Linked DNA regions of Homo sapiens. The protein of the gene in region 1 interacts with the protein of each later gene in a pairwise test. Each region holds a gene or a part of one and is shown in the gene's direction. Other genes may lie near its edges.

Region 1 (5,588 bases):
CGTCGCCCACTTGAGAGGCCCCACATGTGGGACTAGTTTTTCTAAAATGAGAAGCAAACCTAGTCCCATTTCCTTTCCTCACTCCCTCCAATCCCATGTCAAAGATCCAGTGCCCTGTCCCCTTCAAAGTCAAAGGGGTGTCTGTCTCAAAAGAAAATGAACTCAAATACACCTGTAATTGTAAAAGGCTTTATCCTCTGCAATGGGAGTAGTATTCCGGAAGTAAAGAATAAGACTGCCTTCGGCACCCAACTAATGTGGCTACTTTCACATAAGGAACTAACCAAAGACAGAAAATCCCACGCTGAGTTTTGAGTACATTTGCTTAAAGTGCATTTCTTCTGTCACTACTATACGAAAAATATCACTCTTGATAAATGCTGTTTACCCCCTAAAAGGAGCTGCTTTCTATGTTCACGGCCATTTCAGATGTTCAAGGTATGAGGTGGGGGAGGGTTATCCTAGTGTTGGAATTAGGAAGAAGTATAGACAGATCCCATAGTGATAAAACCATGTGCTACTGAAGAATGGCCTCAGAAGGTGACATTCCCAGGCTAAGTAACACTATTTGGTGTCTGGTTCTCAGACACCGGTTTCTTAGTCCCTCCAAAAAATGAGGTCCTTGATCACAGATTGACTCTAACACAAATCACATACTTATCAAGATGTCTATAATAATTTTTAGTGGTCAGCTTTCCTTTTCAGTGACAGCACTCTTTCCTAAAAACAACCATTCTCTAGAGTTATGGCTTAAAACAAGTCAGTCTGTACCATTTATTAAAGTTGATATGCCTATAGAAGCTTGAAATTTATTTATTTATTTATTTATTGAGACGGAGTCTCCCTCCGGCGCCCAAGCTGGACTGCCGTGGCGCGATCTCAGTTCATTACAACCCCCGCCTCCGGAGTTCAAGAGATTCTCGTGCCTCAGCCTCCCGAGTAGCTGGGACTACAGGCATGAGCCACCACGCTCGGCTAATTTTTGTATTTTTAGTAGAGACGGGGTTAGGCCATGGTGGCCAAGCTGGTCTCTGAACTCCTGACCTCAAGTGATCCACCCTCGGCCTCCCAAAGTACTGGGATTACAGGTGTGAGCCACCGTGCCTAACCCAAATTTATCTTTTACAGTTGCATTCTTGTTTGTTGCATTTTCTCAAGTCTCAAACTGTTTACCTATTTGCCTGGGTTTTCCACAAAACAGTGTGGCAGTATCGATTATGTTCTGGGCTAGATCTCCTATACAAAAGTGGTAACACAGTGAAAGGCAAGTTGATTTCCTCAAAGACACATGGTGGGAAGTGGAGAGACTAACTGTCACCGTTTATTTCTGTTCAAGAGGACTATACTGAACTATTTACACTGAACATATTTAAATGGTACAAATTTTATACTGGAATAAAACGAAGCTACATGATCTCAAAATTAGGGTTAGTTAGACCTTCCATATGATAAAATACTCAATCCAGCAACTCTGCCTGAGAAGACCAATTAATACTTCGTTTGGAATCCTAACTCTAGCCTCTTACTAGCTGTGTGCCATTGAGCAATTTACTGGGACTCTCTGAGCATGTTTCCTCGTTTTCTAAAATGAAAAAGTACAATAGCTACCATAGTGGTTAGGTTCTCAAGTCAGTAAGTAAGGGGATGGGGGACCTAAGTTGAAATTCCCTTTGAAAATCACTTGAATTGTCCATAAGAACAGTATATTGACTTTTGCGTACATACCACTATACAGTAAGTCCCACAGACACTAAATTTTGAGCAACCATTGAGATAAACTAAATAAGAAATGCATGTGTTCATTAGTTATTGTAAAACTTGAATGGCATATGCACGTGTGGAGACATTAAAGCCATCCTGGTTTTAGAATTCACAATCACTAACAGTAAATGGGGTATGGATGGAGAACACCACTCCAGGTGCTTAACAAATGTCCGTGTCCTTCCTTTCTTCTGCCCTTAAAACCACCTGGAAACCTTCCCGGAGCAGCCGGTTGAATGGGGTTACGCCAGAGACACAGGTATTGATTTACGCAGAGAGTACGTCGAGGGAAGAAGCTTGGAGACTCGTATAGGGTTCTTACCCTGGCACTGGCACTTAGAAGCACCTTGATGAATACGAAAAGGAATTATTATTTACCCTAGGTTACAGCTCGAGCTATTTCGACGTAATAACGATCCCACGTACACTTTAAAAAGCAAACTTCTCACATACATCACTTCCTGGAAGCCCTAGTCAGCCTTTAGCCCAAGCAATGCTGAGCCCAATCCTTCGGCCTTCCGTAGTCTCGCTCGGTTTCGCGAGATCGAGGCTGAGCTCCGCCGCGCCGCCGTGGGGGCGACCCCAGAACACTTCCGGGTGTAACTGGTTGTGCTGTCTGTGTACTTCCGGCAGCCTCCAGACAGTTTCTTCCGCTTCCTGTACCACCCGGCTCAAGTAGCGGACACGGAACAGGGAACTATCAGCCCGTCGGCCTCCGGGCCCTGCATTCTCTAGCCATGGACCGGGACCTTTTGCGGCAGTCGCTAAATTGCCACGGGTCGTCTTTGCTCTCTCTACTTCGGAGCGAACAGCAGGACAATCCACACTTCCGTAGCCTCCTGGGGTCGGCCGCCGAGCCAGCCCGGGGCCCGCCGCCCCAGCACCCGTTGCAGGGCAGGTAATGAGACGTTGGTGCCACTGCGCCACGGAAGAGGGGACGCAGCTCTGGCAGCCACTACCGCAGCCCCGGGTTTGCGTCTAGAGGAAGTGGAGCCGCGGCCGTGAGCACAGGACGATCGCGCGCTGGTGTCTTGGGCTGGGTGGACGGGGGGCGCTCCTGGGTTGTGCAATGCGGGATGCGGGCTGAACTTTTTCTCTGGCACTGCTTGGTAGAGGCGCAGATTCCTTAGCTAAAAATCCCTTGAGCTTTCCTATCTGAGTTGGAGGCGTCACTTTTTAAGTTTCCCCGCTCTCCACCTCCAGGTTGGTTAATGAGGGAATGCCTAGTTAAAACTTTTTGTCTGAGGTTGTATTGTCTGCAGCTTAGGATGGAGCGGAATGGGCGATGAAAGCCATAAGCAGAAGGTTAGAAGTAAAGAGGCTTTGCAGATAACCCAATTTTCATATATATTTTTTTCTTTTTAAGAAAAGAGAAGAGAGTTGACAACATCGAGATACAGAAATTCATCTCCAAAAAAGCGGATCTGCTTTTTGCACTTTCCTGGAAATCAGATGCACCTGCAACTTCTGAAATTAATGAAGACAGTGAAGGTCAGTTTAGCCTTAAAATCTTTAAGATTGCGGTTCGGTTTAACAGTACTTCAGGTGAAACGGAACTCAAAACTATCGTTAGTGATTTTGTTAATTTTTTTTTTTTAGATCATTATGCAATCATGCCACCTTTAGAGCAATTCATGGAGATACCTAGTATGGATCGGAGAGAGCTGTTTTTCCGAGATATTGAGCGTGGTGATATAGTGATTGGAAGAATTAGTTCTATTCGGGAATTCGGTTTTTTCATGGTGTTGATCTGTTTAGGAAGTGGTATCATGAGAGATATAGCCCACTTAGAAATCACAGTAAGTTATTTTTGTTACTTGGATTGCTTCTGTTTTTGTTAACGCATCTCAATGCAAGAACTATATCTTTGCATGCAGTTGTGCTCAAGTATACCTGCCAAGATGCTTTTGGAAATTAAATGTTAATTGGAGAAAAATAGTTTAAAAAAATTAGTGTAAGTTACCCAGTTTCTCCCTCCATTTCTGGTTTTTGGGATTTTTTAAATTTAAACTGGTTGGCAGGCACAGTGTTCTTTTCTAAATGCTCAAAGAGGTATCAGTGGACGTGGTGAGGTTGATTGATATTCAGACTTATTTCTTGTAGTTGAACATATGTATTCTTAATTAGTTAATATTTGGCATTGTATATTTTCATGTGGATAATTTGGAGAGAAGTTTCATTTATATATTTACAATAATTAAATGTAAGTGGTTTGTACATTATATTAAGATACTTTGCCCAAGATGGATAGTCCTGAATTTAAACTAATGTGTCACGATAAAAGATTGGGTATTTGCCATCTATCCAGGCAGATAAAAAGGAAGAAAAGCAGAAGGTATTACAGATTGGATAACAGACAAAATACTTTGGAGAATTGGCATTTCATTTTCACTGGAATCCTTATACCTTTTAGACAAATTTTAGTTTGTTTTTGATGCATGTTGTATACTGTCATAAGCCATCATATTTGGTTCCTAAACTAATGGAAAGTTTCATGAGATTTTAGTTTTTTAACTGAACCAGCAAACATATTTTACTGTGTTTGGACACGGAAATTACTTTTAACTAAATCCTTATTTAAATTTTTACTTTAGGTTGTTCAACTACTAGCTGTTTCATACCAAACAACTAAGATAAAAGAAGACACTGTTCTTATCAAAGCTTGAAATGTCTGGTGTTTTAAAATACTTCTCATTACAGGCTCTTTGTCCCTTAAGAGATGTGCCTTCTCACAGTAACCATGGGGATCCTTTATCATATTACCAAACTGGTGACATCATTCGAGGTGATTAGTTTCATCATACTAATAAAAAAGTAATGATTGTTGAATTTTTGTTTTTATTAATTTAAAAAAATACAGTCTAAGAGGGTAGTGTTTGGGAAAGTTTATATTTTTTATGTTAGTTTACATTTTCTTACTAATCAGCTTAGTTCTCTTTTTTTTTTTCTTAAGCTGGAATCAAGGATATTGACAGATACCATGAAAAGCTAGCAGTATCTCTGTATAGCTCTTCTCTTCCACCACACCTATCTGGTATTAAATTAGGTGTAATTAGCTCTGAAGAGCTTCCTTTATACTACAGGTAATTTATCCGTATTATTTCAACAACAGTTCATTACAAAAGTCTCTTGGATTGAGGAATACCACATTTTTATAACGGTTAAATTACTTCAGACTTGGTAAAAGGAAACCATATCATAATATTGCCACACCATCTTATGCAAAAAATGGAATTAGTATTTAAACCTCAAATGATATTATTTCTTTACTAGAAATGGAATGTCAAATTAGTCATTTTACAATTTTTGTGTTTGTATTTTTTTAAGGAGAAGTGTTGAGCTAAATAGCAATTCTTTGGAGTCCTATGAAAATGTCATGCAGAGTTCCTTGGGATTTGTTAATCCAGGAGTAGTTGAATTCCTTCTAGAAAAACTAGGAATAGATGAATCTAATCCACCATCTTTAATGAGAGGCCTACAAAGGTATAGTACATCAGTATTACTCTTAGATGGTGAGGGGAGTGGCAGTAAGCTCAGAAGCTGCGTTTAGCTGAAGGACGTATTTTACCATCCTAAGCCACCTAGTAGCAGGCATATGCCAAAGGTTGAATGAACCAGGTGATCCCATCTTCTGGACTGGACTGTCTTATCAGTGATTAATATGTGTACCATGTAACCAAGTAGAGAAGGATGCAGAAACTTTTTATAAGAATTTTGTGTGTATGCTAAAGAAAAATACTGGGTTTTTTTGTTTTTTGTTTTTGTTTTTTGAGTCGGAGTCTCACTGTGTCACCCAGGCTGGAGTGCAGTGGCGCTATCTCAGCTCA
Region 2 (4,897 bases), on another chromosome or scaffold:
ATCTGCCCGCCTCAACCTCCAAAAATGCTGAGATTACAGGCGTCAGCCACTGCACCCAGCCTACTTTGTTTTTTTTTTTTGTTTTGTTTTGTTTTGTTTTTTGAGACAAAGCCTTACTCTGTCGCCCAGGCTGGAGTGCAGTGACACGATCTCGGCTCACTGCAACCTCTGCCTCCCAGGTTCAAGTGATTCTCCTGCCTCAGCCTCCTGAGTAGCTGGGACTACAAGCATGCACCACCATGCCCGGCTAATTTTGTATTTTTAGTAGAGACGGGGTTTCGCTATGTTGGCCAGGCTGCTCTCAAGCTCCTGATCTCAGGTGATCCTCCCGCCTCAGCCTCCCAAAGTGTTCAGATTGTAGGCGTGAGCCACTGTGCCTGGCATACTTTGGATTTTTTAAGGGAAAAAGGGAAAGGGAATCAGCTGGAGCCAGAACCAGTAATGACAATACCTGTAGGGATAAATTAATCCATAATTGTAAACTGTGAATCTATACTCACAGCAGTTCTTTTCTTTCAAAATATTTCTGCATTTCTGGGTTAGTTGTATAGGTCATAGTGCAATGCAATGTTTAATACACTAATTAGGATAAAGCAATTCACATTGAGCTTCCTAGCACACTACTGCTGAGCACTGTTATTCCTACTCTTGTTTGAGAGAAAATGTGGGGATTTTTGGTGCTCTCTTTAGATTATAAGCTTTTAATATTAAGATGATTTAATGGACCTTTTCTGAATTCTGAATTACTTTGTAGCTATGGCCATGCTCTGTTACCTGGTGAAGGTGCAGCTATGGCTGAATATGTAAAAGCTGGAAAACGTATCCCACGAAGAGGTGAAATTGGCTTGACAAGTGAAGAAATTGCATCATTTGAATGCTCAGGTTATGTAATGAGTGGTAGCAGGTATGTTGTTGGCATTAAGCTCAGTTTCCATGATTAGATCTTTTTCTTCTTTTTTACTACCAGAATTATATTTTGGTAATTGATTTTCATTAAGTGACTGTTTCTTATGAAAAGTAGAGTATAAATATTGGTTTGATATTAGTGTTGTTAGTATAACATGGTTTTCTGCAATTCCAAGTATATATGCAACTCAGCCTCAAACTCAGCTATATCTCTGACTTCAAAGAATCAATCTTCCTAATGTCCTTTCCTAGTTGGTATTTGCTTACAGATATTTTATCCACTGGAGGATATAGTTAAATTCAGCTATTTATCACTGCCCCATGAGGAATGTGGCAGTTAGGAAAATATTTTCACAAGACAGTGTTTCCTGGTTACAAGTTTGTCTTCAGTTTTTTATGGACCCAGATTTCTGAGACTGAATAACAGAAAAAGATGATAAAAGACATTGGTCAGCTGAGAATATATCCTGGCTAATAAATAAATGAATAAATAAATAAATTTTAAAAAGACACTGGATTCAGCATGGGAAATGAATATAAAATTAGGAAAGAGAAAAGTTCCAGGAAGAACCAGGAGAATGAGCAAATAGGGCAGCAGTACTTAGATCAAATTGAATTTTGGATTCTTTAAAACTTGATAAACTTTTTTTTTAAGTAGATAACTATTTTTAAATGACACTGAAGGCAAATATTTGCAGAAACCCTGAAGCACCTCCAGAATCTTGTAATACTGAGGACCAATATTTGAAGCATTGCATTGGAGGACCCACACAGTAAGGCAAGAAAAAGAAATTAGAGACACAAGGATTGGAAAGGAAGGCTGGGCACGGTGGCTCATGCCTGTAATCCCAGCACTTTGGGAGGCCAAGGCAGGCAGATCACTTGAGTCCAGGAGTTCAAGACTAGCCTGGGCAACATGGCGAAACCCTTCTCTACTAAAAACACAAAAATTAGCCAGACGTGGTGGTACACACCTGTAATCCCAGCTACTCAGGAGGCTGAAGCAGGAGAATCGCATGAACCCAGGAGGCGGAGGTTGCAATGAGCCAAGATCACACCACTGCATGCCAGCCTGGAGAGCAAAACTCAGCCTGAAAAAACAGTAATAATAATAATAAGGATTGGAAAGGGCGATATAACAATGTCATTTTTTAGCCAGGCGTGGTGGCTCACGCCTGTAATCCCAGCACTTTGGGAGGCATAGTTGGGTGGATCACCTGAGGTCAGGAGTTCAAGACCAGCCTGGCCAACATGGTGAAACCCTGTCTTTACCAAAAATACAAAAATTAGCTGGGCATGGTGGCGGACACCTGTAGTCCCAGCTCCTCAGGAGGCTGAGGCAGGAGAATCACCTGAATCCAGGAGGAGGTTACAGTGAGCCAAGATCGTGCCATTGCACTCCAGCCTGGGTGACAAGAGTGAAACTCCGTCTTAAAAAAAAAATGTCATTTTTTTGTGAATGACATGGTGAATGATTTGATTGTTTACATAGAAAATCCCAAAGAATCTCCAGATAAATTATAAATGAGAGGAGGGTTTAACAACTGGTTGGATATAAGGTTAGTACACAAAAATCCATTGCATTTCTATTTACCAGCAACAGACAACTAGAAAATGTAACTAAATAAGAAGAAAACATTTGTAATAGTATCAGAGAATATGAAGGACTTCAGAATAAATCTTAACAAAAGATGCCCAGGGCTCTGTGAGGAAAACTATAAAACATTATTAAGAGATTGTGTATTCAATACAGTTCCAATAAAAATGAACTGCATTTCTATTTACTAACAACAGAAACCTAGAACCTTGAACGTTTATAACAGTGTCAGAATATGAGAGACTTAAGAATAAATCTTAACAAAAGATGCCCAAGGTTCTATGGGGAAAAATGTAAGACATTAAGAGTCCATATCTTCAATATAGTTCCAATCAAAATCACAACACAGTTGTTTATGAGACTTATTAAGCTGGTTCTAAAATTTATATATTACACTAAAAGGACAAGAATAGCCAGGTCACTTCTGAAGAAGAAGAGCAAGAAGGTAAGATTAAAGAAAACTTAAATAGCTGGAGAGATACCAGGTTCACGGATAGGAAGGCAATATTGTAAAGTTGTCATTTCTTCCCAAATTGATCTTTATATTCAATACAGTCCCAATCAAAATCAGAACACAGTTTTTCATGAAACTTAATAAGCCAGTTCTAAAATTTATATACTAGACTAAAAGGACAAGAATAGCCAAGTCACTCCTGAAAAAGAAGAGCAGGAAGGTAAGATTTCCCCTACAAATAGGAGGACTTATTATGAAGCTTACAGCACTTTAGAAAGCATAGGAGAACAACTGAATTGTTCAGTGGAATAAAATTCAGGCCGGGCGTGGTGGCTCATGCCTGTAATCCCAGCACTTTGGGAGGCTGAGGCGGGTGGATCACCTGAGGTCAGGAGTTCAAGACCAGCCTGGCCAACATGGTGAAACCCCATCTCTACCAAAAATACAAAAATTAGCTGGGCGTGGTGGCTAGTGCCTGTAGTCCCAGCTACTTGGGAGGCTGAGGCAGGAGAATCGCTTGAACCCATGAGGTGGAGGTTGTAGTGAGCTGAGACCTCGCCATTGTACTCTAGTCTGGGCAACAAGAGCAAAACACTATCTCAAAAAAAAATAAAATAAAATTCAGAGCCCAAAGATAACCATACACGTATGGAACTTCAGTGTATGAAAGAGATAGCATGTCAGATCAATGGGGAAAGAAAGAACTATTCAGTACATGAAATAGGAGGCTGAGGCAGGAGAATCGGTTGAACCTGGGAGGCGGAGGTTGCAATAAGCCGAGATTATGCCACTGCACTCCAGCCTGGGTGACAGAGGGAGACTTGGAAGTTAAATCCACTGATAAAAACTGCTGTTCAATTACAGATTTAGACTTGGTTCTTTTTTTTTTTTTTTTTTTTTTGAGACCTAGTTTCACTCTTGTCTCCCAGGCTGGAGTACAGTGGCGCAATCTCAGCTCACTGCAACCTCCACCTCCTGGGTTCAAATGATTCTCCTGCCTCAGCCTCCCAAGTAGCTGGGATTACGGGTGCCCACCACCACACCCAGCTAATTTTTGTATTTTTAGCAGAGACGAGGTTTCACCACGTTGGCCAGGCTGGTCTTAAACTCCTGACCTCAGGTGACCTGCCTGCCTCAGCCTCCAAAAGTGCTGAGATTACAGGCGTGAGCCACCATGCCCAGCCTAGACTTGGTTCTTTTGGTTTTATGGTAAAGTAGAACCTTGAAGGAAGTTCCATCTGATTAATGACTAGTTAAATGTTTTATCTATCCTACTTCCAATTCCACAAAGGCAAATGGATATGTCACCTAGGAAGTTTAATAATTTGCCCATTTCTGATTGTTTTACTGGAAACAAATTAGACGTATACCCTTAGTATTTGAAATTAATGATAGCGGCCAGGCATGGTGGCTCACACCTGTAATCCCAGCACTTTGGGAGGCCAAGGCAGGTGGATCACCTGAGGTCAGGAGTTCGAAACCAGCATGGCCAACATGGCGAAACCCCATCTCTACTAAAAATACAAAAATTAGTCGGGCGTGGTGGCACACACCTGTACTCCCGGCTACTCGGGAGGCTGAGGCAGGGGAATCACTTGAGCCCAGGAGGCAGAGGTCGCAGTGAGCCAAGATTGTGCCACTGCACTCCAGCCTTGGTGACAGAGCCAGACTTTAAGACTCACAAAAAGGAGAAAAGAAAAAAGGATAGGCCAGGCGCGGTGGCTCACGCCTGTAATCCCAGCACTTTGGGAGGCCGAGGTGGGTGGATCATGAGGTCAGGAGATCGAGACCATCCTGGCTAACAAGGTGAAACCCCGTCTCTACTAAAAATACAAAAAATTAGCCGGGCGCGGTGGCGGGCGCCTGTAGTCCCAGCTACTGGGGAGGCTGAGGCAGGAGAATGGCGTGAACCCGGGAAGCGGAGCTTGCAGTGAGCCGAG

The links. Proteins that work in one complex are often made in the same cells at the same time.
Region 2: the proteins of TTC14 (region 1) and NKAP interact in a two-hybrid assay, tested with the Homo sapiens proteins (one large-scale study listed by BioGRID and IntAct).

The regions. Positions count from the first base shown.
Region 1 is NC_000003.12:180,599,764-180,605,351, forward strand, and holds the start of TTC14 (tetratricopeptide repeat protein 14), read left to right. Parts: upstream 1-2,399; 5' UTR 2,400-2,498; coding exon 2,499-2,659; intron 2,660-3,127; coding exon 3,128-3,252; intron 3,253-3,360; coding exon 3,361-3,560; intron 3,561-4,461; coding exon 4,462-4,546; intron 4,547-4,714; coding exon 4,715-4,844; intron 4,845-5,088; coding exon 5,089-5,244; intron 5,245-5,588.
Region 2 is NC_000023.11:119,926,023-119,930,919, reverse strand, and holds part of NKAP (NF-kappa-B-activating protein), read left to right. Parts: intron 1-754; coding exon 755-904; intron 905-4,897. UniProt on the Homo sapiens protein: Acts as a transcriptional repressor. Plays a role as a transcriptional corepressor of the Notch-mediated signaling required for T-cell development. Also involved in the TNF and IL-1 induced NF-kappa-B activation.